Linked DNA regions of Homo sapiens. The protein of the gene in region 1 interacts with the protein of each later gene in a pairwise test. Each region holds a gene or a part of one and is shown in the gene's direction. Other genes may lie near its edges.

Evidence for each region.
Region 2: the proteins of SLC25A6 (region 1) and NOTCH2NLA interact in binary tests that used the Homo sapiens proteins (3 or more experiments, as listed by UniProt).
Region 3: the proteins of SLC25A6 (region 1) and MID2 interact in binary tests that used the Homo sapiens proteins (3 or more experiments, as listed by UniProt).
Region 4: the proteins of SLC25A6 (region 1) and VDAC1 interact in binary tests that used the Homo sapiens proteins (3 or more experiments, as listed by UniProt).

What each region holds. Positions count from the first base shown.
Region 1 is NC_000023.11:1,385,652-1,389,151, reverse strand, and holds the end of SLC25A6 (ADP/ATP translocase 3), read left to right. Parts: intron 1-1,732; coding exon 1,733-1,873; intron 1,874-2,392; coding exon 2,393-2,550; 3' UTR 2,551-3,000; downstream 3,001-3,500. UniProt on the Homo sapiens protein: ADP:ATP antiporter that mediates import of ADP into the mitochondrial matrix for ATP synthesis, and export of ATP out to fuel the cell.
Region 2 is NC_000001.11:146,162,989-146,170,026, reverse strand, and holds part of NOTCH2NLA (notch homolog 2 N-terminal-like protein A), read left to right. Parts: intron 1-5,016; coding exon 5,017-5,276; intron 5,277-7,038.
Region 3 is NC_000023.11:107,835,846-107,842,883, forward strand, and holds part of MID2 (probable E3 ubiquitin-protein ligase MID2), read left to right. Parts: intron 1-4,824; coding exon 4,825-5,540; intron 5,541-7,038. UniProt on the Homo sapiens protein: E3 ubiquitin ligase that plays a role in microtubule stabilization. Mediates the 'Lys-48'-linked polyubiquitination of LRRK2 to drive its localization to microtubules and its proteasomal degradation in neurons.
Region 4 is NC_000005.10:133,994,946-134,001,983, reverse strand, and holds part of VDAC1 (non-selective voltage-gated ion channel VDAC1), read left to right. Parts: intron 1-7,038. UniProt on the Homo sapiens protein: Non-selective voltage-gated ion channel that mediates the transport of anions and cations through the mitochondrion outer membrane and plasma membrane.

The sequences.
Region 1 (3,500 bases):
GGTGTGGGCAGGGCTGGTTCCTCCTGCGGCCTCTCTCCTGGACTTGGAGACGCCGTCTTCTCCCTGTGCCCTCACAGCATCATCCCTCTGTGTGTGTCTGTGTCCTCATCCTCTCTTCTTATGGGATGTCTTAATCCATTTCAGGCTGCTATCACAGAATACCATAGACTGGGTGACTATAAACAACAGACATTGATTTTCCTACAGTCCTGGAGGCTGGAGGTCTGAGATCCAGGTGTGGGCAGGGCTGGTTCCTCCTGCGGCCTCTCTCCTAGGCTTGTAGATGCCGTCTTCTCCCTGTGCCCTCACGGGGTCGTCCCTCTGTGTGTGTCTGTGTCCTCATCTCCTCTTGTTATGAGATGTCTTAATCCATTTCAGGCTGCTATCACAGAATACCATAGACTGGGTGGATTGTAAACAGCAGACATTGATTCTCCCACAGTCCTGCAGGCTGAAGGTCTGAGACCAAGGCATGGGCAGGGCTGGTTCCTCCTGAGGCCTCTCTCCTGGGCTTGGAGATGCTGTCTTCTCAGGCTTTTTCCTGTGTGTGTGTCTGTGTCCTCATCTCTTGTTATGAGATGTCTTAGTCCATTTCAGGCTGCCATCCCAGAACACCATAGACTGGGTGACTTAGAAACAACAGACATTGATTCTCCCACAGTCCTGGAGGCTGGAAGTCTGAGATCCAGGTGTGGGCAGGGCTGGTTCCTCCTGAGGCCTCTCTCCTGGGCTTGGAGACTCCGTCTTCCCTGTGTCCTCACAGGGTCGTCCCTCTGTGTGTGTCTGTGTCCTCGTGTCCTCTTCTGATGAGATGTCTTAGTCCATTTGAGGCTGCTATCACAGAATACCATAGAGTGGGTGGACTGTAAACAACAGACATTGATTCTTCCATAATCCTGGAGTCTGGAAGTCTGAGATCAAGGTGTGGGGCAGGGCTGGTTCCTCCTGAGGCCTCTCTCCTGGGCTTGTAGACGCCGTCTTCTCCCTGTGTCCTCACAGGGTCATCCCTCTGTGTGTGTCTGTGTCCTTATCTGCTCTTCTTATGAGGTGTCTTAGTCCATTTCAGGCTCCTAAAACAATACTATAGACTGGGTGGCTTATAAACAGCAGACATTGATTCTCCCGGAGTCCTGGAGGCTGGAAGTCTGACATCAAGGAGTGGGCAGGGCTGGTTCCTTCTGAGGCCTCTCTTTTTGGCTTGTAGACACCGTCTTCTCCCTGTGTCCTCACAGGGTCATCCCTCCGTGTGTCTGTGTCCTCATCTCTTTTTAGAAGGACACTGGGGTCGTAGGATCAGGGCCCACCCTACTGGCCTCCTTTAGTCTTACCTCTTTCAAGACCTTATATCCAAGTACAGTTGCATCCTGAGGTCCTGGGGTGGGGGTGGGACTTCAGCATGTGGATTTTGAGGACAGAGTGTAACTCCCATAGTAACGGTGACCCTTCAGAAGGTCAGGGCCCTATTCCCTTCCCCAAACAGGCCTAACCCCGGCCTCTGGGACTGTCTTGCTGGGCTCCGGTAGGTGGCAGGCGGCCTTTTCCCCTCTGGCCCTGCCCCGACCTCTCGTGTTGTAAACGTCAGCTGGCACTGAGCAGCCACGTGGAGGGGGCACTGGTGGTCTCGGAAGAGCTCGGCACCACCTCAGGGGGCCGTGAGCACACCCTGGGGGCCGACCCTGGTCTCGGGTGGCCGTGCAGGCGCTGGAGACGGTGACGTGCCGTTCCCGCGCAGGCATGCTCCCCGACCCCAAGAACACGCACATCGTGGTGAGCTGGATGATCGCGCAGACCGTGACGGCCGTGGCCGGCGTGGTGTCCTACCCCTTCGACACGGTGCGGCGGCGCATGATGATGCAGTCCGGGCGCAAAGGAGGTACTCGGGGGGGCGGGGGACCCTTGCTGCCGGGAAGGGGAACCAAGCTCCTTGCCCTAGGCCCGTGGGAGGTCAGGAACCATCAAAGGAGGCACTTCCAGGGCGTGTGAGACAAGCAAGTGTGTCCGAAAGTAACCTGGCTGTGTGGAAGGATTTTCCTGAACGATGGGCTTCTGATCTTTTTGGGGTTTCATGGTCCGGGCGGCAGTTTCTAAATCCCCGCCTCCTAGAACCTCTGGTTGCACCCACACCCTCGATCCTGCCTTCTCTGCATGGACCCCGGGGTGGAGATGGGGGACACCCAGGGCGGGGCCTGAAGTCCTGTGTCCAGCCCTCCCTGAGACAGTGGCTTAGGAGGAGGGCTTGAGCTGGGGGAGCCTCAGGTATCCCTCCTGTAATCAGAACTGTGGCTCAGGCGTCTGGGGTGTTATTTCTGTGAAACGTCTTTGTGGGTGCAGGTGGCGTCCGTGTCTTGAAGAGCTTGGCGGCGAGGCCCTCACTGTCTCCCTGTCGTTGCAGCTGACATCATGTACACGGGCACCGTCGACTGTTGGAGGAAGATCTTCAGAGATGAGGGGGGCAAGGCCTTCTTCAAGGGTGCGTGGTCCAACGTCCTGCGGGGCATGGGGGGCGCCTTCGTGCTGGTCCTGTACGACGAGCTCAAGAAGGTGATCTAAGGGCCGCGGCCTCCTCCACACACACACACACACCAGGGGAACCAAGAGAACCACGTAGAATCCTCAACCGTGCGGACCATCAACCTTCGAGAAATTCCAGTTGTCTTTTTCCCAGCCGCATCCTGCCTGTAGATGGCCGGGGAAGGCTCTAGAAAAGGGGCGCATTGCGATCCAACCATCGGCAGCCGATTCCGTGTCTTGATCACGGGGTGGGAGGGAACCGTGGCGTCCCTGCGTGGGGCCCATGGGTGAGACACTCCAGTACTGAGACCTAGAGTCCAGATGCTTGTAGGAGCCAAGTCGTGTTCTAAGTATTTATTTAAAACAAAAGAATCACGTTTTCCCATTTGTACTTCAGCGCTAGCCCCTGTTTTGCACAGCCGAGTACTGGCGAGTATGTTCTATGTTGGGCCTCCTGCTGCAAAACAATAAACAGAGGACGCAGAGGTCCTCCTGCCTGGCCACGCACCTCTCCACAGGGCGGCCTGGGGTCTGGAGATGGGCGCTGGGCCCACGGGACGCAGATGGGGCCACGCTCTGCCCGTGGCTGGCCCACGTTCCTGGTCTGCAGTGCTGCCTCCTCCCCAGCACCCCTGGGGCACAGAGGGCAGGGTCACAGCTGGGAAGAGGCGGGGGGTAGAAACCAAGGCTGGCAGAAGTGTAGCCGGGCTCCCTGATAAATGCTGGAGGACCCCAGGGCACCTGCACTTACTGTACCCTCTCTGAGAGCATTTGTATGATCTCATGTCTCAGCTCTGGAGGCTGGAGGTCCCAGAAAACCAAGGTATGGTAGATTCAGTCTCTGGTGAGTACCCAGTTCCTGGCTTCTAGATGGCGCCTTCTCCCTGTGTGTCCTCAGATGATGGATGAGGCCAGGGTGCTCTCTGGAGTCCTTTCTGTAAGGGCACTGATCCCATCCATGAGGCCTCATGACTCCCAAAGACCCCCAC
Region 2 (7,038 bases), on another chromosome or scaffold:
TTAAAAATCCTATGAAGTAGGCACTGTTATTACATCTCTTTTACGACAGGGAAGTTTAGTACCTTGCCCAAGACTACACATTGAGTAAATGGTGGAGTTGGGATTGAAATCCAGGTGGTCTGGTTCCAGAGTCTGTACTCTTAAGAGCAGAACAATAATAACTCCAAGCATTTATTAAATTCTCAAGATTTATCCGGCACCATGCTACATGCTTGTATTCAAGCAGAGGCTGGTGATCATCTTTTAGAAATATTTTAGAAATGATTACTTAATTGGATAGAAATTAAATTTCTTGAATCTGAAGGTTCTGTTATTCCAAGGATGGCTGGAAATGGGGGAAAAGCCAGCAACAAGATGATGTCTGGCCTGAGGCTTTTAAGATGATCAGAATTTGTATCAAAAAGGAAACTGTGAACACGAATGATAAGTATTATAGGAATTCAGTTAACAAGTCTTGTCAGAATGTGGTAATAAATTATATACAACTTAAAGAGATGAAGTTACTTTAAATTGTGTGTGGAAGCCTTAGAAAAATTGAATAATTAAAGTTTCTTGGGAAGATGATCTCCTTTTACAAATGTTTAGTTTCAAATAGTGGCAGCACATATTAGGATAGAGAGATGACTTCTAGAAAACTGAACATATGGGACTGGAACAGTGTATTTTGGAGTCAGTTACAGGAAGGAAGTTGTTTAAAACCAAGTGAACAACAACAGTAACAAATGCATTTGAGAGAAAGAGCAGTGCAGTCCAGACTTAAACATTAGGGTGGCCATAATAGATGGGGAAGAAGGAGAAATCAGCAATCCAGACTAAGACTTCACTGGGTTTTGAGTTAGACAGAGGGAGGCATAGAAGCCAAGGTAAAATGATTAAAACGGTACATGGAGTGGTTAGCAATTCTCCCTATAGGAGAGAGAATTTCCTTATGAAGTTTCAGATGAGACCACTGAACTTGACTAGAGGAAAGTCATTGTTTTTAGAAAACAGTTTCTAAACAATAATTAGAATTAAAGTTTTGTTGCAGAGGGATAAGTAAGAAGTAGATGGAAAAGAAAGAGGAATATCTGAAATTAGGCTACAGTCATAGAAGGTTAGCTGTGAAACAATAATTTGGAAAGGGAAATGGGACCTCATGAAAGTGTGGGTTAAAAGAGACTTGTATATCTTCTAAGGTAAAAGTAAAGAACTAAGCTGATGTCCAGCCCTCTAAAACATTTTAAATAGAAATCAAACTTTATTAATACAGTAGGTCTAGTTTCACGTAAAGCAAATATATGGTTCTGTACACGGGCTTTAGGAGAGTAAGTCTGTTGTACCTCATATGTAAGTATTATCCCATTTAGAGGAAAACCCTAAGTCTTTCTTTACAGTGGCTTAAAGGCCCCAATTGATCCACATCCCAGTTACAGCTCTCATCTATTTTCTGCTGCTCCAGATATTCTTGCTGTTTCTCAAACACGCTAGGGCTGCTCTCTGTGTTATGGCCTTTGCATTTGCTGTTCCCTTTCTCATGAATGTGTTTTCCTAAGATACCTGCATGATTACTCTCACCTTATTTAGGTCTCAACTCAAGTATTGTCAGTGAAGGTCTTCTCTGATTTTCCTATTCTAAACTGAGATACTTCTCTTTGCTCACCCCACACCCTCATCCCCAGCTCCATTCCTTCCTGTTTAATTTTTTTTCACAGCACTTAACTCCATCTATTGTGCATCTTTTACTTAGTAATTTTGTTTTCGTCTTCCGCTATTAGAATGTAAACTCCAAGAGTGTAAGAATTTTTCTAGCACTGGAAAAATGCCTGGCACATAATAGGCATTTACTAATTGTTGTGTGAATGAACGATTATAAGTTTAATATTCTTTGTGGAAACTAATAAGGTTGATTTCCTATCAGAAACCGATCATTATTAATAAGCATATTGGATGGTATTTATAGAATTAGCCTTCATATGTTCTCTACTCAGAAGTTGGCAAACTTTTTCTGTAAAGTGCCAGAGAGTAATTATTTTTGCAGGCTTTGTGGTCTCATTACAGCTACTTGACTCTGTTGTTGTAGTGGAAAATCAGCCATAGACAATCTATAAATGAATGAGCATGGCTGTGTTCCAGTAAGACTATTTATGGACACTGAAATTTGAATTGTATATAATTTTGAAATGTCAGAAAATATCCTTCTTTTGTTCTTTTTTTCTAATCATTTAAAAATGTAAAAAACTATTCACAGGCCAAACAAAAACAGGCAGTGGTCCAAATTAGACTTGCAAACTGTACTTTGTCAATCTCTGGTTTTACTGATTTCTTAAATATATCTTAGGTTAAAACTTATTTTTCCATACTTGATAGGGAGCAACAATGTGAATTAAACTGTAGAAACAAATAATTCAGAAATACATCTGTTTAGCTTTAGAAACTTCCATTTTGCTTCATTTTTGTTTTCCTGGGAACCTTATATTTCCATTATATGTTTATGATGCTACCATTTAAATGACTTTGCATTCTCTTAGCATATGCCACATGATAGTGTTAGGGTGGTGTAATAGTTCAGGAGCAAAGCTGAGCAAAGCCCACCCACGTTTAAAAATTTGCCATTATTTAGAAGGTGCATAATTCCCATATGGGAGAATGAAGAGTCATCTAATAATGCCCAGAGGGCTGCACTGTGAGTGAGAATTGTGTTGCAGTTTTTAACATTCATAACACATTTCTTGAATAAGCTGCAAATGCTTTTAATAATATATCTCAGAGTTAATTTTAGCTATGCTACATTGGCACTTTTTGCTCCTCCACTTCAAAAAACCAACACAAGAAACTATTCTCAAATCAAGCTGTGATTTGGATGGGGCATTGTATTTTCCTCAATAAGCACAAAGAAGAGAGAAAAGATGTTTTCACTTGGCAAAACTTTTTTTTTTGAGATGGAATCTCACTCTGTTGCCCAGGCTGGAGTGTAGTGGCACAATCTCGTCGGCTCACTGCAACCTCCGCCTCCCGGGTTCAAGCAATTCTCATGCCTCAGCCTCCCGAGTAGCTGGGATTACAAGCGTGCACCACCACCCTGGCTAATTTTTGTATTTTTAGTAGAGCCAGGGTTTCACCTTGTTGGCCGGGCTATTCTCAAACTCCTGACCTCAGATGGTCCTCACACCTCAGCCTCCCAAAGTGCTGGAATTACAGGTGTGAGCCACTGTGCCCAGCCCACTTGCAAAACTTTTTAACATTTATAAGGTTTTTTACATACTTGATTTTGTTCAGTTCTTAGAATAATCTCATGATGTAGGTGACCTTATTAACTATTTACAATGTGAGAAAATGGATAGTCAATGAAGATAAGTAACTTGTCCAAGGTCACAGCACCAGAACTCCAAACCAGACCTTCTGACCTTCTTGATACAGACTCCTCACAGTCACCTGCATGCCATCTTTGGTTTCAGTGCTATGAACTTTCTTCACTGCCTGTTGGTCTGTAGCTACACCTACTCATGAAGATGCCCAGAGCCTTAGCCGCTCCTTGCTCTGCCATGCTTATCTTATGCAGCTCTGGGAGGGGTGAAGAGGCTGTGGCCAGTTACCTCACTACCACTATAGCTATTCACCACCCTGTTTTCTCCTTTAGCCATTTTAGCTACTACACAATTCTTCTGGGCATTTTCTGTCTTAGTTCCCTAGTATCTGGCCTTCCCTCTTTTCTCAGTAACTGTGACCCCTGCTAGCTAGCCTTGCCAACCAATGGTTAATGAAAGGTCTTGGATATGACTGTCAAAGACAAAAGCACTCATGACCCCAATGTTTCAGGTCACAATGATTAGGAAAATCAGGACAACAAGGCTTGGGCACAGAAAAGCTGGTTTTTGAGAGGGGGATTTAGAGTTTGGTTTAAATGTGTAATCTTTGAGGTAATGGTGGAACAGCCTACTAGATTCAGTTTTCTAGTCCCTGAAAACTAAAACGAGGAATAAGTTGAATCACATATTTGGGGCACCAGCCAAATATATAGCAGCATTTATAGTTAGAATCAAAGTGTTTGTGTTTCTTAATTTAAATGCTTCTCAGAGATTCCATTTAAACAACTTCATTATGAAAATGGAGACTTACCATGCCTTTTTGATATTGTTCAGAGAAAATTGTCATAAATAATACACACAGTTTGAAATGGTTGTACATCTTATGAATCAAGGGGTGGCATGTAAAAAGGTTCCTCAGTGCCTCAATGTGGAAAATATCATAGAATGTTATTCTTCAATTGATTCCTTCCTTGACTTTGGTGTTTATATGGTATCTTAGATATTTTATGTTATTTTAATTATATTTTGTGTCTTTTTATTTGGTTAAAAATGCCTACTTAAATATTAACAGATTTTTAAATATCCCTTTGAACTCTTCCCCATTCCTGTACCTCCTTTCCCTTTTTCCGTTGTAATGTCAGCCACCTGAACATAACCCAGAAAACTAGGTATCATCCAATTGATGTTTCAGTGGAAATAAGAGAAAGAAGCACTTACTATTTCTCAATGCTTAATTGAGGAAAAGCACATGATATCTTACATATTTTAAATTGGAGGGGATAATAGGGTCAAGTTCATGCATTATATTGTGGACATCTTAATCCTATCAAATGGCTTAGTCAAAATGAGAAAGTTAATGAATTTAAGCAGACAAGTACGAACAGTGCTCTAAAAAAGGTGCTGTTACACCATCCCAACCTGTACACACATGAAAAAAAGCTGGGGTGCATTTTGCGTTTGAATAAGGGTCATGTTGACTGGCCATGGCAGACCCTGCTAGACCATACACCTGATACTCTGTCACCTGCCAGGACTCAAAAGGACATGGGAGTATGTGGTTAAGTTCTCTAAGGACTCTTTCTTCTAAAGGGAAGCAGTTTTATAGGTGGTCCTTGTAGGTCTGTTGATTCACAATCTCGTGCTTTCTTGATTGGACTGTATTGTTTTACTGTAATTTTTTGGACTTACAAGAAGTCAGGTGTTTTCATGGACTCTTCTCTTTTCCATACAGATGTCCAGAAGGCTTCTTGGGGGAATATTGTCAACATCGAGACCCCTGTGAGAAGAACCGCTGCCAGAATGGTGGGACTTGTGTGGCCCAGGCCATGCTGGGGAAAGCCACGTGCCGATGTGCCTCAGGGTTTACAGGAGAGGACTGCCAGTACTCGACATCTCATCCATGCTTTGTGTCTCGACCTTGCCTGAATGGCGGCACATGCCATATGCTCAGCCGGGATACCTATGAGTGCACCTGTCAAGTCGGGTTTACAGGTAACTAATGAGACCAAAGCCAGTGCTTTCCTACCTTCAGCAGATACCTTTATTTAGCATCTTTTAGATCATGGTGTCTGGCTCTTAAATGTCCCCCAGCTCTGGTGCACATTTAACATTATGATAAGGAACTGGGATGTTCCAGACAACTATCCCTAACTTCCTTTTAAGAGTTTCAGGGGGCAGAGAAAGAGAAAGAAAAAGGACCAAATACTTTGACTGCTTAAAGTATATATGTCAGGGCCAGGTGCGGTGGCGCACGCTTGCAATCCCAGCATTTTGGCAGGCCAAGGCAGGAGGATCACTTGAGGCTAGAGGTTTGAGACCAGCCTGGGAAACATAGCAAGACCCCATCTCTACAAAAAAACAAGAATAAAAATAAAACAAAATTAGTCATGTGTGGTGGTGTGCACCTGTAGTCCTAACTACTTGGGAGGCTGAAGTGGAAGAATTGCTTGAGCCCAGGAGTTTGAGGCTGCAGTGAGCTATGATCGCACCACTGCACTCTAGCCTGGGTGACAGAGTGAGACCCTGTCTCAAAAAAAAAAATATGTACACCAGGATGGGGAATCAGAGTTTACTTCACTAAAAGAAATAAGTACACTGTCACCAGAGGAAAAGTTGCTGATGTTATTGACTATTTGCTTTTAGAAATCTCCCTCCCTAGACATTCAGGGCACTGGCTTTTCTGGTTTTCTGAACCCTGTTCCTTTTGCTTCTTCATTACCTTGTTCTTATCCATTAAATGTTTGTGCTCCCTGGAGCACTGTTTTGCGCCCTCTTTTGAGCCACATCACAGCTCTCCCTAGGGAATTTCACTGTCTGTATTCGCCTCCACTGCCACTGTCTTCATTAGCTTGCTGATGAATCTCACCATCATTCCCTTAGCTCCACCCAACCCTGACATTCAGGCTCATGTTTCTAGTTATCCTTTGTATGTTCTCCTTGGAGATATTCTACAGGTACTTTCAGCTCACCTTGTTGACAGAAATACGTAGCAACCATGTACATCCCAAATACCCACGCTAGAAACTCCCTGTCCCTTGTTCTGACCTCATTTCAACTCAGTCACCCAAGCCAACCTCTGAGTTGCCTTTCACCTGTCTATTCCTCCCATTTCCTCTGCTACCCTGTAGTTGAAGGCCATGTTATCTCTCACCTGGGCTTCTGAAGTAGTTTCTGAATACGTTTTCTTGCCTTTATTCTCTCCCCATCTCATTCACCCATGATATTACTACATCTTTGATTATAAATGCAAATATTCTAACAATCTCACCTGCTTACAATGTCTAATATTTTTTCATCATCCGCAGAATAAACTGCAAACTCTTTTACATGACTTCCATAGCTCTCTACAGCCTAGACTTTACATCTTTTTATAGCCTGGCCTCCCCACAAGCATCTAGGCCTAGTCACACCAAATTCTCCTTATTTCCTGAAAATGTTGTACTTATTATTGCTTCCATACAGTTACACACCCTTTTGCCTGGAATGCCCTTTTCTACAACTGGTGATTGTCCAATGTTATTTAAAACTGTGTCTCAGTGACCCTTTCATGATTCCTTTAGGCAAATGGTCTCTAAGTTTTATTAGTTTTATGTATCACATTTTATTGTAATTTTTTTTACACATATCTCACCTGAATAGATTGTGGGTTTTTCTAGGTGGGTCTGAGCTTTATTCAAAAGTGTTTATTAAATTAGATGAGAAAAGGAGGAACATTCTTCATTTTTTCTCCTGCTTTAAGCACTAAACCAAGAGT
Region 3 (7,038 bases), about 110 Mb from region 1:
CAAATTTTAAATTTTGATAAAGTACCATTTATGTATATTTTCTTTGGTTGCTTATGCTTTTGGTGTCATCTGAGAAACTGTTGCCTGCCTAACCTAAGTTCACAAAGATTTATGCCTATCTTTCCTTCCAAGAGTTTTATAGTTTCAGCTCTTACATTTAGATCATTGATCTGTTGTGAGTTAATTTTTATAAATGATATGAAGTAGAACTCCAACTTCATCCTCTTGCATGTGGATATCCAGTTGTCCAAGCACCATTTGTTGAAAAGAGTATTCTTTCTCCATCGAATGGTCTTGGAACCCTTGTTGAAAATCAGTTGACCATAGATATATATAGGTTTATTTCTAAAGTTTTATCCTAAGTTTGATTCTTAGTTTTGCCACTTAGAAACAAGTGTGACCTTGAACAAGTTACTTTTTTTTTTTTTGAGACGGAGCCTCGCTCTGTTGCCAGGCTGGAGTGCAATGACACGATCTCGGCTCAAGCAACCTCCGCCTCCCGGGTTCAAGCAATTCCCCTGCCTTAGCCTCCCGAGTAGCTGGGACTACAGGCATGCGCCACTACGCCTGCTAATTTTTTGTATTTTAGTAGAGACGGGGTTTCACCATGTTGGCCAGGATGGTCTCGATCTCCTGACCTTGTGATCCGCCTGCCTCAACCTCTCAAAGTGTTGGGATTATAGGCGTGAGCCACCACGCCCAGCCTACTTTTTTTTTTTTTTAAATAATGATAATACCTACCTTTTAGAGAGTTGTTGTGAAAAGTAAATGAGGCAATGCGCATAAAGGGTATTGTTCAGGTGCTTAGATAACCAGAAAGGTAGGGGAAATGGGGGATAATTGAAAGGATTCTAAAATATTAGGAGTACCCAGAACAAGAAAGCCTCATAAATTAGAGATGATTGAACACGTCTGAAGAAGTTGATAAAAGTATTCAGTACCCGAAAATTGGCTAAAACAGTTAATATATGATAATTAAAAATCAAACAGATTCGAAACAGTCTAGAAAAGCTAAAATAAGCAAGAGGCAGTAACTATCTTAAAATATTCTTTACAGAGCTGAAATAAGTTAAGGTAGGTTATTTTAGAGTACTAATGATTGGGTTTTTTTCTTTCAAAGACTCTTGAGAATCTTTTGAAAGCTATGGGCAACCCTTTCCCCAGGAAAAATGCATATATGACATACAAACACATTCTGCAAACAGTTCTAGGAAGTTCAGAAGTCCCCGGTTAATAAATCCTATTTTGACCTTACCCAAAGCAATCCTGACCCATAGCGTGCTTTCCCAAGCTTAATTTCATAATGAGGTTCAAGTGTCACACTGACTTGGAAATAAATTTTAGATTTCCAAACAAAATTTAAGAGCTTTTCCTCTGTACAGGACAATTTATATGGCACCCTCTTAAGCCTTAGGAAAGCTGTGGTACTCTAATTGTTGTTATATAGTTTTCAGCATACATAGACATGGCTTTCAGCAATACATGTGACCAACCCAGGTAGCTTCCAACACAGACATTGAGGAATGCAGGCATACAGTTCTAGAAGAGATAGTAATAGAAGTGCAGTGTGAGGTGGAGATGGGCCTAGAAGACAGAGATATGATTCTGGAAGGAACTCAGAATGAAATAGGCAGATTCAGAGAAAGTAAGAGAGACAGAGAGAGATAAAAATAGACGTAGAAACATGCTGTTTAAAAAAAAAAAACTCTATAAACTATGTTAAATATACCAAAGTAAAGATTTCCAGAATTCAAAAAAAAAAAAAACTGTCTTGTAAATGGTCCAGATAAACCTCAGTGAAGGAGGTGAGATGATTGAAATAAAGGTAAGGGAAAAGAGCACAGGCATTGGAATTATACTGACCTGTGCTCTGGGTATGTATGTTTTTGGTTGATTTATTTAATGATTCTAAGCCCTAGTTTCCTAACTGTAAGGTGGATACAGTAATAGTAACTTCCTCACAAGTTTCCTGAAAGAATTAGTGAAATAATGTGTAAAGTGCTTAACATAGTACTCAGAATACAGGAGATGCTCAATGAATGCTAGACCCCTTCTTACTCCTAGTTTAAGTGATACTTCATTAACAATTATTGAATACAGTTTGTGTGAAGCACAAACTTGTGCTGTGAATGAAAATATAAAATAGTTGATACTCTCAAGGAGAAGGAAGAGTTAGCTGGAAATACAGCTATGTAAGTGAAATAAAACAGAATGTTCTGGAAGCCACCAGTGGTTGAGGTGATAAAAACATGTAGATGAGAGATCTCTTAGATTTCTAGGCTTGGATGGTGATATTCACCAGACAGGGAAAATCAGAAGAGGAGCAGGTGTTTTTTGTTTGTTTTGTTTTGTGGAGGTGAGGAGGAGCACAACAAGTTCATTTATAGACATGTTGAGTTTGAGAATCTGAGTAATATATCAAATGGAGCTCTCTAAGGCAATATTCCTGCTGTCAGTGGAAGTTGGAATCTTCATCTCTCAAAAGTCTCTTCCAATTCTAAGATTCAATGATGTATGTACATTTTAATTGTTTACTTTTTCATCTGTATGGGTGAACGTTGATAGATGTTATAAGCTACAAAATACTGGCCAACAACTTTCAAGCACCTGTAAATTCTAAAAGAAAAATACCTTGTCTCACTTAAAAAAACTGGCTGTACAAACATCTGAATCTACTAAACCAACTGAGTGACTGATTTACAAAAAGATTCTTCACTTTTATAACCTCATTTCATATAGATTTTCATTAAATAGGTAGTTAGTTCAGTGCATTTAAAAGGTTTGATTTAGAAACAGCTTTTAGGTGTACATCTATTGTACTTAGGCATAAAGTATAATTGTACTCAGTACTTATGTATCCTGTGACAATATCTGAACAAATACCAATGGCAGAGCAAAATTTTCAAGCTCTGATGAGAGTCTCCAATGATGACAAGATAATAAACAAAAGCTACTCAAAAGCAAACAATGCTTTTCTTGGGCTTGGCTCTGTGGCTCACTCCTGTAATCCCAGCACTTTGGGAGGCTGTGGTGGGCAGATTGCTTGAGCCCAGGAGTTCAAGATCAGCCTGGGCAACATGGCAAAACCACGTCTCTACAAAAAATATAAACAAAAATTAGCTGGGCTTGGTGGCATACCCCTGGAGTTCCAGGAGGCGGAGCCCAGGAGGCTGAAGCAGGAGGATCGCTTGAGCCCAGGAGGTGGACGTTGCAGTTAGCCAAGATTGTACCACTGCACTCCACCCTGAATGACAGAGGGACACCTTGTTAAAAAAAAAAGCAAGAAAGATGCCCTTTTTCTTTCCTATACATAGGATTAACATTTTCAGTCAGTAAGATATGTTTTATATTTTTCCTTAGTTAAAGACAACTTAGAATATTTATGTGTGTGTATTTTAATTAATGGAAGACTCTAGGCAATTAAGAATTAGGTACCTGTGTGTTCAGCACAGAAATGCCTGTGGAAAAATAGATAGAGTTACCAAGAGGTTGGTTTCTTGTCAGTTGGGTGGCTTTTTTTGTTTGTTTTGTTTGTTTTTTTTTTTTTTGGCAGTCTCACTCTGTCACCCAGGCAAGAGTGCAGTGGCATGATCTCGGCTTACTGCAACCTCCACCTCCCAGGTTCAAGCGATACTTCTGGTTCAGCCTCCCGAGTAGCTGGGACCACAGGCAAGCGCCACCACGCCCAGCTAATTTTTGCATTTTTAGTAGAGACAGGGTTTCACCATATTGGCCAGGAAGGTCTGGACCTCCTAACCTCGTGATCCACCCACCTTGGCCTCCCAAAGTGCTGGGATTACAGGCGTGAGCCACTGTGCCCGGCCGGGTGACCTCTTTTACTCACTGATGCTCACTAAATTGAAGGTTACCAGATCTTAAAATTTCTGGAACTTTGCTAATTTCTATCTAGATATTGATTTGCATCCTGTTATGTTTTAGAAAGTATGAAAAGACACATGGGAGGTGAGCTTCATAGCTGGCTTGTGCTAGTTCAGCAGGTGTTTAGTAATGAAACCAAACTGAAGCCACAAGGCAATATGACTTTATTATTGATCAGCAACTATTGCTGAGTAGGTTGAAAAGTTTGAAATCATTCCCCATTCAGCTTGATGAACTGAAGGGGTTTCTGAAGGTGAGGGAAGAAGATGAAAGTGAAAACTATCATCTTTTATCTCAAGTAACTCAGTTTACTAGGAATAGAATGGAACGGAAATTTCCATGTGTGATAATAAGAAGTAATTCAAGTTCACACTCTGAGGAAAAACTTATTATCCTGCACCAAGGGCTACATTTTTCTAAAGCTCTCTCTTTTTTATGCAGGCTTTCAGAATGGAATCATTTCAGGAAGTAGAGAGTTACTTTAAAATATGGCATTGTTTTCCTTACACTGGATGTCACATAGAAGCAGCCCTACAGTTTACCTTGAAGTGAAATAGAGAACAATATTGGAGAATAGAGATTGGGAATTTTGCAGGGTCTCAGCCTTATCTTAGTCTAGGAAAAGAGATGTCAGTGGAGAATATGTGAGAGAATGATCCATGCAAATATTGTGAGCTGGAATGGTAATGTTAATCAGTCTATCAGGATTCAGAGGTGGCCATTTGGTTTTATCTATTTGTGCATGAAAATAAACATAGGCATTTGTCTAAAACAAGGTTTGAAGGGGAAGAAAGTCTTCCTGATTAGTTCCCAAATTGCTTTTCTATTGCTTAAGCATCTCTGGGGAATCCAGCACGTAAACGCGCCCATTGGTTAGTGTATAATTGTGTTATATCCATTTTCCTTTGGAAATGCCTAATGACTCTTGCTTTGTATTCCTTGCAGGTGAAAGCCCAGCCTCCGTGGTTCTTAATGCCTCAGGAGGACTATTTTCACTAAAGATGGAAACACTGGAGTCTGAATTGACCTGTCCAATCTGCCTAGAGTTGTTTGAAGACCCCCTTCTGCTCCCTTGTGCTCACAGCCTCTGCTTCAGCTGTGCCCATCGCATTTTGGTATCAAGCTGCAGCTCTGGTGAATCCATTGAACCCATTACTGCTTTCCAGTGTCCTACCTGCAGGTATGTTATCTCGCTGAACCACCGGGGCCTGGATGGCCTCAAGAGGAATGTGACTCTGCAGAACATTATTGATCGCTTCCAGAAGGCTTCAGTCAGTGGGCCCAATTCCCCTAGTGAGAGCCGCCGGGAAAGGACTTACAGGCCCACCACTGCCATGTCTAGCGAGCGAATTGCTTGCCAATTCTGTGAGCAGGACCCGCCAAGGGATGCAGTAAAAACATGCATCACCTGTGAGGTCTCCTACTGTGACCGTTGCCTGCGGGCCACGCACCCCAACAAGAAACCTTTCACCAGCCACCGCCTGGTGGAACCAGTGCCAGACACACATCTTCGAGGGATCACCTGCCTGGACCATGAGAATGAGAAAGTGAACATGTACTGTGTATCTGATGACCAATTGATCTGTGCCTTATGCAAACTGGTGGGTCGTCACCGAGACCATCAGGTCGCATCCCTGAATGATCGATTTGAGAAACTCAAGGTAAGGGATCTGGGGAGCATCCCCTATACAACTTTGTCGCATAAATGCAGTTAGCAAGTTCTCTAATAAAATAGGTGACTTTTCCTATATGACAAGTGAGTTAACTTTAAGTTGTTCTCATGAGGAATAACCTGCTCTCCTGCAAGCTCTTCCTGGAGCCTATCTCATCTGTTGCATAAACATTCTTGCAGTCACACACTTCTGGCTAACTTTTGGGGAGTCAGCTCATGGCCTGCAACACCAGTAGTTCATCCAGGGAAACACACCCTCTATCTTCTGTCAGTGACATATTGCTTATTATATATCTTTGCTATGATCTTTCCACCTCTTCTTTTAAGTATGTGAGTACTTGTGTACGTGTACTACAATTAGCATATGTGTCGATTTGCATATGTAGGTATATGGCAATGGGAAGGCAGGGTGTGTCTCTGTGTAGGTGTGGGTGGAGGTGGCTGAGTGTATCTAGGTAGGTGAGAGATTTTTGTGGAGGACATTATTGTATGTTTGTGTTTGTGTACTCAATACACTAAAGAAACAAAAGTTTGGCATTGGCCATTACAAATTGCCATTAAGCCTTTAACATAGGGCTAATTCTAAGCCTGCCTTTAAAAACAAAACAAAACAAAACAAAACAAAGAACTGAAGAAACTTCAGTATACCACGAAATTGGGAGGGATAATTAAATATCTGAATGAACAATTTAAACTGAAGGCAATAAATATTTTATCCAGTATCAAATTTTGTGACAGTGCTCACTATTATGGGCTACAAACTGAAGCATTTGTTTATAGTTCCTGCCTTACAAGTTCCTAGTCATTTATGTGTATTCAATGGACAGAGTTTTCTAAAGTTGTTGTGTCATATAATATGTATGTACAAGTCTAAGTGCCCATAAAAAGTCCTCCTACCTTACACTGATGATCCAGCGAATTGTTTTATTCCCATTGCTTGTCTGCTATGTTGTATAATTTCTCTTAAGAAGGGAGCTACTTAGCAGATATTCTAGAAAAATAAAATGTTTAAACGGATAGTAAAATTACCACTCCAAATAGAACCTGAGTACATAAGCCAAGCTAGAAGAAAGACCCAGATAGGATAAAAGGAGGGCAAGAAGGGAATGGAGATTTTCCTCCTGCCATGCAGTGGATGATTCATTGTAACTTCTGTAAAAAGTATAATGTTGGTGAGAGTAGCAGTACTCAGAATAGGATATATTTGTCCTGTAATTTGTTGCAAATAATATTGAGAGTAGTCACAATGACTATGGTTTGTGCCTCTTTTGGTTATTATTTATACCTGATATGTATAAATGTGTAGCAAATTCAATTTTTTTATTTCACTCAAGTTGATACTCTCATTCATATCAAGGCTGCAGAGGGAAATAATCTTGTTAACTTCAGTTCTTAGACTCATAAGATATTAGGCCTTTGACTTGGTCTAGTCGAAGCGCTCTACTTTAAAGTTGTATAAACAGACCTTGATAGATGAAGTGACTTGG
Region 4 (7,038 bases), on another chromosome or scaffold:
CCATGGAGTCCTGTGGTAGCCACTGAGAAAAGTTGACCAGTGGGCTCCTCAGCTGGGTCTGGGCGCATTTCTCCATTTTACCACGTACTCAGGGGGTTTGGGATGAGTGGGACTTTAAGTTCTTTACTCAGAACTGTGCTGGAAAGAGCACTGGAGAGTAGCTTAGGCCCATAACACAGGTCTGGTGAGCCATAGGGTCGGTCTCATACAGGTCAAGTCACTGTCTTGTGCCTCAGTTTCTCTCTCTCTTTTTTTTTTTTTTTTTTTTAGATGGAGTCTCACTCTGTTGCCCAGGCTGGAGTGCAGTGGTGCAATCTCGGCTCCCTGCAATCTCTACCTCTCGGGTTCAAGCAAGTCTCTGCCTCACCCTCTCGAGTAGCCGGGATTACAGGCGCCTGCCACCATGCCTGGCTAATTTTTTTGTATTTTTTAGTAGAGATGGGGTTTCACCATCTTGGCCAGGTTGGTCTTGAACTCCTGACCTCCTGATCCACCCGCCTCGGCCTCCTAAAGTGCGGGGATTGCAGGTGTGAGCCACTGAGCCCGGCCGAGTTTGTCTGCTATAAAAGTATGATTGTCGTCATTACAGTGATTGCTGATTGAGGGCTTGCTCAGCACCTTTCTGGGGGCTCAACGAATGTTCTGTGATGTTGAGTTCACCACCCTATACCCTGGGAGAGAGATAGTGTGTTTCCATTTCACAGGTCAGCAGACTCGAGCACAGAGAGGTGAGGTAACACAGCCTGGCAGGAGTGGAGTTGGGATTCAAGGCCTGGTCTGAATGGTGGTGCTCTCACATTGCAGTTGCACTCCAAGGGACCCTTGCAAGGTGCTAACAGATGTGAATGCCTTTTGGAAAGTCAAAATTGGTGTTCAGATGGGAGACATTATTTTTCCACACCAGTCAGAGTGAACTTGTGCATGGCTGTGTGCGGGCCAACTGGCAGTGGACAATGGAGTCACCTCTATTTCTTGCAAGGACAGTGGTGCTGAGTGTCTATTATAAGGGTCCGTTTTCCCTGGGATCTGGTGGGAGGCATTCTTTCAGGACCTGTTCAGCTAAACAATGCCTCATTGTGGACATGAAGGACTCTGGACCCTGTGGTTCAGGGTGACCTTTTGAACATGCTTAGCAGCCATTATTATAATAAATATACAAAATGAAAACTTGTGATAAAATACTGTGTGTATTCCCTGCTTACCAAGCGCCAGCCACTGTACCAAGTGTTGTATATTAACGAGCTAATTCAGTCCTCACAGTGACGCCATCCAGGCTCTCTTTCTCCATATTAGAGCTGAAGAAAAAGGAGTAGAGAGGTTGCGACTTGCCCAAAGTCACATACCTAGAAAGTGGTGGGGTGGGTTAGAACTCAGGTCTATTTGATTCCCGAGGCTTCCTGCCCAAGCACTGTCTGTCTCAACCCTACCTGGTCAAGCCAAGCAGTGAGGCTCCAGGGAACTTGAGGTGCCTTAGGTCAGGTAGGAGCCCCAGGTATGCCTGGGATCCAGACCATAGTGTACTGGCTGCCAGCGCAGGCCATCTCCCCTTGATAGGTGGGTGGGCAGGCTGCCCTGAGTCAGCAACCTCTTGAGCCCAGGAGCTCAGCATGGAACTCAGCTGTGCTGGTGGTGGCCCAGCTGCCAGGGTGTTTCAAAATAGAAGCTACCCCTGGAAAGCTCTACTGCCCACTGCGAGACTGTTGTGGAAGAATGGAGGGAGAGAACAGCTGCATTGGGTACGCAGACCTGCTACCAGAACACAGGGCCATCAGCCTTTGCCAGCATCCTGGAGCTTGAACCAGGAACTGTTCCCCTGGGTTGTTTCTTCCTGGCAAGAAAGAGAAAGTGCTGGAGTGTGTGTGTGTGCATGCGTGCATGTGTGTGAGCGAGCTGCTGATTGTGTTCGCCCCCATGTTGGCTTTTAGAGCTAGGGTTGCCTTCTGCTGGGGAAGTTGCTTTTCCTGGTCCTCAGGGCTAGGAAGAGGTGCTGTTTCTGTGATCACTGGCTGGTCTGATACCCCTCCTATAGGCTGGCCTAGTTCTGCCCTGACAAACCACCTAGAATGGTGTTGGTGAAACAGCGGGGCCAGAGACTTTTCCATAGTACTCTCTTCCTTGGCAGAATCATAAGATGATGGCAATGATGATGATGATGGTTGTGATTGCTCTGTTGGTTAGCGTCTTTGCAGGGATCTGGTGCACACTTACACTTGGTAATCCAGGAGAGTTTAATGAAGACATCATTTGCAAAGCTGTGGATGGGGTGTCAGGTCTGGTCTGTTAACACCCTGAGGCCTACAAGAGAGGGAGCTTCTTGGCAGGAGCTGTGGCCTTGGGTAGAGGAAGGTAGTCATTGCCCATCTGAAGCCTAGCAGGGAGGGAGACTCGGGGTGAGTACCCCGACTTCATTCTTCCCTAAACTCCCGTCTTCTGCAAGTACCTCACGTTGAAAGGCTAAGCCCAATCATAAGCCCATGGACAGCAGTCCATAATGATCAGTTCTGGGGGCACAGAGCAGGGTGGAAGGGAGGAGAATGGATCTGGAGGGGCAGACAGAGTATCCAGTGTAGTGGATTATGGTTATTACTGCCATTTGTTGAACACTTACTCCATGCCAGATACTTCTGCTGTTCTGCCTGTTTCACTCATTCCTTGTAACAACTTCCTTAGGCCTAAGGCCTTTCCTCCCAGCTGTTTTTAGCTGAGTCTTGGAGACCCATGGCCACCCTGCTCCCTGTATCAACCATTGCAGTAGTTGTTGGCTCTCTAGGGGTGCAAAGCTCATCTGCCTGAATCCTTCTATTATTACTATTTATTTCTTTTTATTTTTTATTTAAAAGAGACAGGGTCTCACTGTATTGCCCAGGCTGGTCTCGAACTCCTGCATTCAGGCGATCCTCCTGCCTCAGCCTCCCAAAGTGCTGGGATTAGAGGCGTGAGCCACCATGCCTGGCACATGCCTGAATCCTTTTGAGGGAGCCTCTGCAGAGAAGAGAGCATATTTCTACCAGGCGGGGGCCTGGTAGGTGCTTAGTGCAGGAACCGCCCTGAGCTGCTGCTTCTCAGTGGCACCTGGGGGCAGCCCTGCCTGTTAGGCACAGGCTGAGAGGTAGGGCAGGAGGAGTTCCATCTCTTCTGGCAGGCTCTTCTTGAACAAGCGCCTCCGGTGATTCTTGTGCACCCTGAAGTTAGGGAGCTCTTTCCTGCTCATGATTTCTGGCAGGGTGGCCAAGCCACTAGTGGTCACCTGGGAGTGAAATGTGCCCCGACGGACCTTGCCTGATAACTCTTCCATCTCAGTGTAGTTTAAATCTGTTCTTGCAATCTGTATGGACACTCTAGGTAGCCTTCTGGCATTGCTACTGCAGCAGCCTTGGAACGTGATTTGGGACACAACACAGCTCAATTTCAGGCACAGTGGTTGGCTTTTAAAGTGCTGTTTTTTTGGAGAGGGAGTCTCTCGCTCTGTCACCCAGGCTGGAGTGCAGTGGCACGATCTTGGCTCACTGCAGCCTTTGCCTTTGGGTTCAAGTGATTCTCATGCCTCAGCCTCCCAAGTAGCTGGGATTACAGGCACTTACCACCACGCCCGGCTAATTTTTGTATTGAAATTCTTTATCCTTAAACAAATTATTAGTATACACAAACAGCTTAAATAATGAAGCAGAACAAAAAATGAAAATTCGATTTGAAGTGCATTCCTTCCCTAAACCTCCTTCTCCAGAAGCGTATCTAAGCCAGCCCCAATTTGCAGATTGGCTTGTATCCTTCCACATGCTTTCCCATCCATTCATGAACATAGAAAGATGTGTAAAAAGGTTTTCCTCCAATTACATGGAATTACAAATTTTCTGACTTTTTTCATTTAACTGTATCATAGCTAGCTAGCTTTCTTTCTTTTTTTTTTTTTTGTTTCGAGACGGAGTTTTACTCTTGTTGCCCAGGCTGGATTACAATGGCGCGATCTCAGCTCACCACAACCTCCACCTCCCAGGTTGAGGCAATTCTTCTGCCCCAGCCTCCCGAGTAGCTGGGATTACAGGCATGCGCCACCACGCCTGGCTAATTTATTTTGTATTTTTAATAGAGACAGGGTTTCTCCATGTTGGTCAGGGTGGTCTCGAACTCCTGACCTCAGGTGACCCGCCCACCTCGGCCTCCCAAAGTGCTGGGATTACAGGCATGAGCCACTGCGCACGGCTATCGTAGCTTCATAGCTAGCTTTCTATGCCACCACATACATCCACCTTATTCTTTTTTTTTTTTTTTTTTTTTTGTGAGACAGTCTCGCTCTGTCATCCAGGCTGGAGTGCAGTGGCATGATCTTGGCTCACTGCAACCTCTGCCTCCTGGTTTAAGCTTGTGCCTCAGCCTCTCAAGTAGCTGGCATTACAGGCGTGCACCATCACACCTGGGTGATTTTTTTTTTTTATTTTTTTTTTATTTTTAGTAGAGACGGGGTTTTGCCATGTTGGCCAGGTTGATCTGGAAGTCCTGGCCTGAAGTGATCCGCCCACCTCAGCCTCCCAAAGTGCTGGGATTACAGGCATGAGCCACCCACCTTATTCTTTTTGATTACCATATGGTACTCCTTAGTTTGCAAGTATAGTACCTTAATTTTTATTCATTCATTTTCCTTTTGATGGACTTTTAGGTTGCTTCTGGGTTTTGTGTTACAAATACTGCTGCAGTGAGCATCCTCATATACACATCTTTGAGTAGTGCCTTGGTTGCTACAGTGGGGCAGGTTCCTAGAAGTGGAATTGCCACTAGGGTTAATGCTGGGTTAATTGCTCTCCAAAAAGAGTGTACCTGTAGTACTCCCCCTTGGCGTGAACAAGAGTGACTGTTTTCCACACCCTCACTGACACTGGATATTATTTACGTTTTTGCCAGACTGCTGGTTAAGTGAGCTTCTGAAACACAGATGTGGTAGTCACTCAACAGTGGCTCTTGGTGGCCCTTAGAATAAAATCCATGCATGGTATTGAGGTCAGAAGCAACCAGTGCTTCTGATGGCACTTGGTCTCCTCAGCCTGAGATCAGCTCTCCTTAGGCCGAGGTGGGAGCAGGCAGGGAGTGGAGGTCATTGCTAGTTGAGGGTCTCCCCAACTCCCCCACTCTTGGTGATGCTGCAACAGTGAGCCTGCAGAGGGAGCTCTTACTTCCTGGTTGCATTGTAATGAGTTCCTATTGTCAGATTCCAAGTTTCTACTTTTTTCCCCATTGCTAAATAATACTTTGATGCTCATTGCTCATTCACTCATCAAACACATTTATATTGAATGCCTATTATGTGCCAGGGCTTAGCATCTTTATATACGTAACTTTTTCCATATTTTGGATAAATTTATGCATGACAGGCTCTGGGGTGCTTTGAATTCAAAGAGGTGATTTTGGGGGTAGGTGTATGGGGTAGGGTGGGGTGGGGGCACGGTGAGCACAGCAGCTGTCATTGCCATTCAGCTGATGAGCCAAGAAGGATGTGTACCCCCAAGACAGAGGTTACGTAAGTATTATGCAGACTGTGCTGGGTGATAGATACACTATCCTTCCCCTCTGTGCTTCCAGTATGGGCCGGATTTTCATTCCTCAGCTGGAATGGGGCTTGCATAATTTGTTCAAGGTCAGCCAAGGAAAGGTTGGGTAGGTAGACTGGCAGGCTGTGGAGGGGAACCAGGGACTCCTGTATCCTGGTGTGACTTGCTGGTCCTTCTCAAAGTCTTCAGTGACTGCAGGCAGGTCTGCTCAGCCTGGCCCTGCCCATCCCTCTGTTTCCTACCAACCAGTGGGAACAAAGCCCCCAGGCTCTGCCCTGAAGCCATCACTCAGGCAGAGAGGCCTGTGGTTCTGACTCCCCCAGGACGCCCTCTGACTTCTGTCTGTCCAGGGCTAGCTGCTTTGCCGATGCCAGACTGCCCTGCTTCATGCGCAGCCTCTAGAGGCTCAGCTTGTGAAGGCCCCTGGGGGGTGGATGCTGCAGAGACAGCTGTGTATCAGTAGCTAACTGTACAGGCTCCGATTTGGAGCAGATCTGGGTGGAAGGAGTGACTGGGAGGGGTGGGGGCCAGGGTTCAGCCTTCAAGTCAGCACCCTGGCAGGGTGTTAAGTGAAAGCAGGCTTTGTTGCCGACTTTTCTTTCCTCCAGTCCTCGCCTTAGAAAATTAATGCAGATTATTATTTCTATCATAAAATTGTCTCTGAAATGGGTTCGAGAGCTGTGTAAAAATGGGCATTTTGGGGGTGCTGTCTGTAGCTGTAAGAAAGCTGAACTTCTCGGAGCGGCAGAGCTGTCTCGGGCCTTCCTTAGTTCCGTCAGATCAGTGCAGCAGGGGATGGGCCGAAGTGCACAAAAAGGAGGGGAAGCTACCACTACCTGGCAGTTGGGGGCCTTTAGTGAAAGGGTGAGTCATCCTTTTGCTGTCCTCGGTGGTGTCACTTCAGGCCCAGGAGTGGACTTGACTCCATTCAGCCAGTGGTTTCTGTGAGTCTTCCTTGCCAGGTGCTATGCTGGGGAGAATGCTTACTTGGGGGCCCAGAACGGGGGAGATTATGCTTCATTGTCGGTGTTCAAGGAGATGGGGAAGAGAGCAAGACACAGATGAGAAAGCCAGCATCCAGTATGTTTACAGTGAGGCATTGGATAGGGATATGTTTTAGTGAACCAGCAAGTTCACTTGCGTGCTGCTGGTACCAACTACATGGTTGTGTTGTGGAACCCCACAGCCCCAAAAGAGCTTGGCCGTGTCGGAGCTCCTAGAGGCCCCAGGAGGGGTCCGGTCTGCTCTTCTGAGCTCTGCTCTCTGAGTGCCTTGTCCTTGGGTGGTAATCTCTTTAGTGGCCTTGTACTTCAGGCTGATGTTTGCTGTGGGTGGGGTGTTTTTTGACAGGTGGCTGTGCTTGTTGGATTTTGGGGATTAGCGATGAGAGAGGGCATTTGGGGAACATTTAATGGATGAGTGCTCTGCCTTTATCCTGAGCGGGGACCAGTCCAGATGTGAAGGCTGCTGTGTCTGGGAGGCGTCTCTTCTGTGGGGT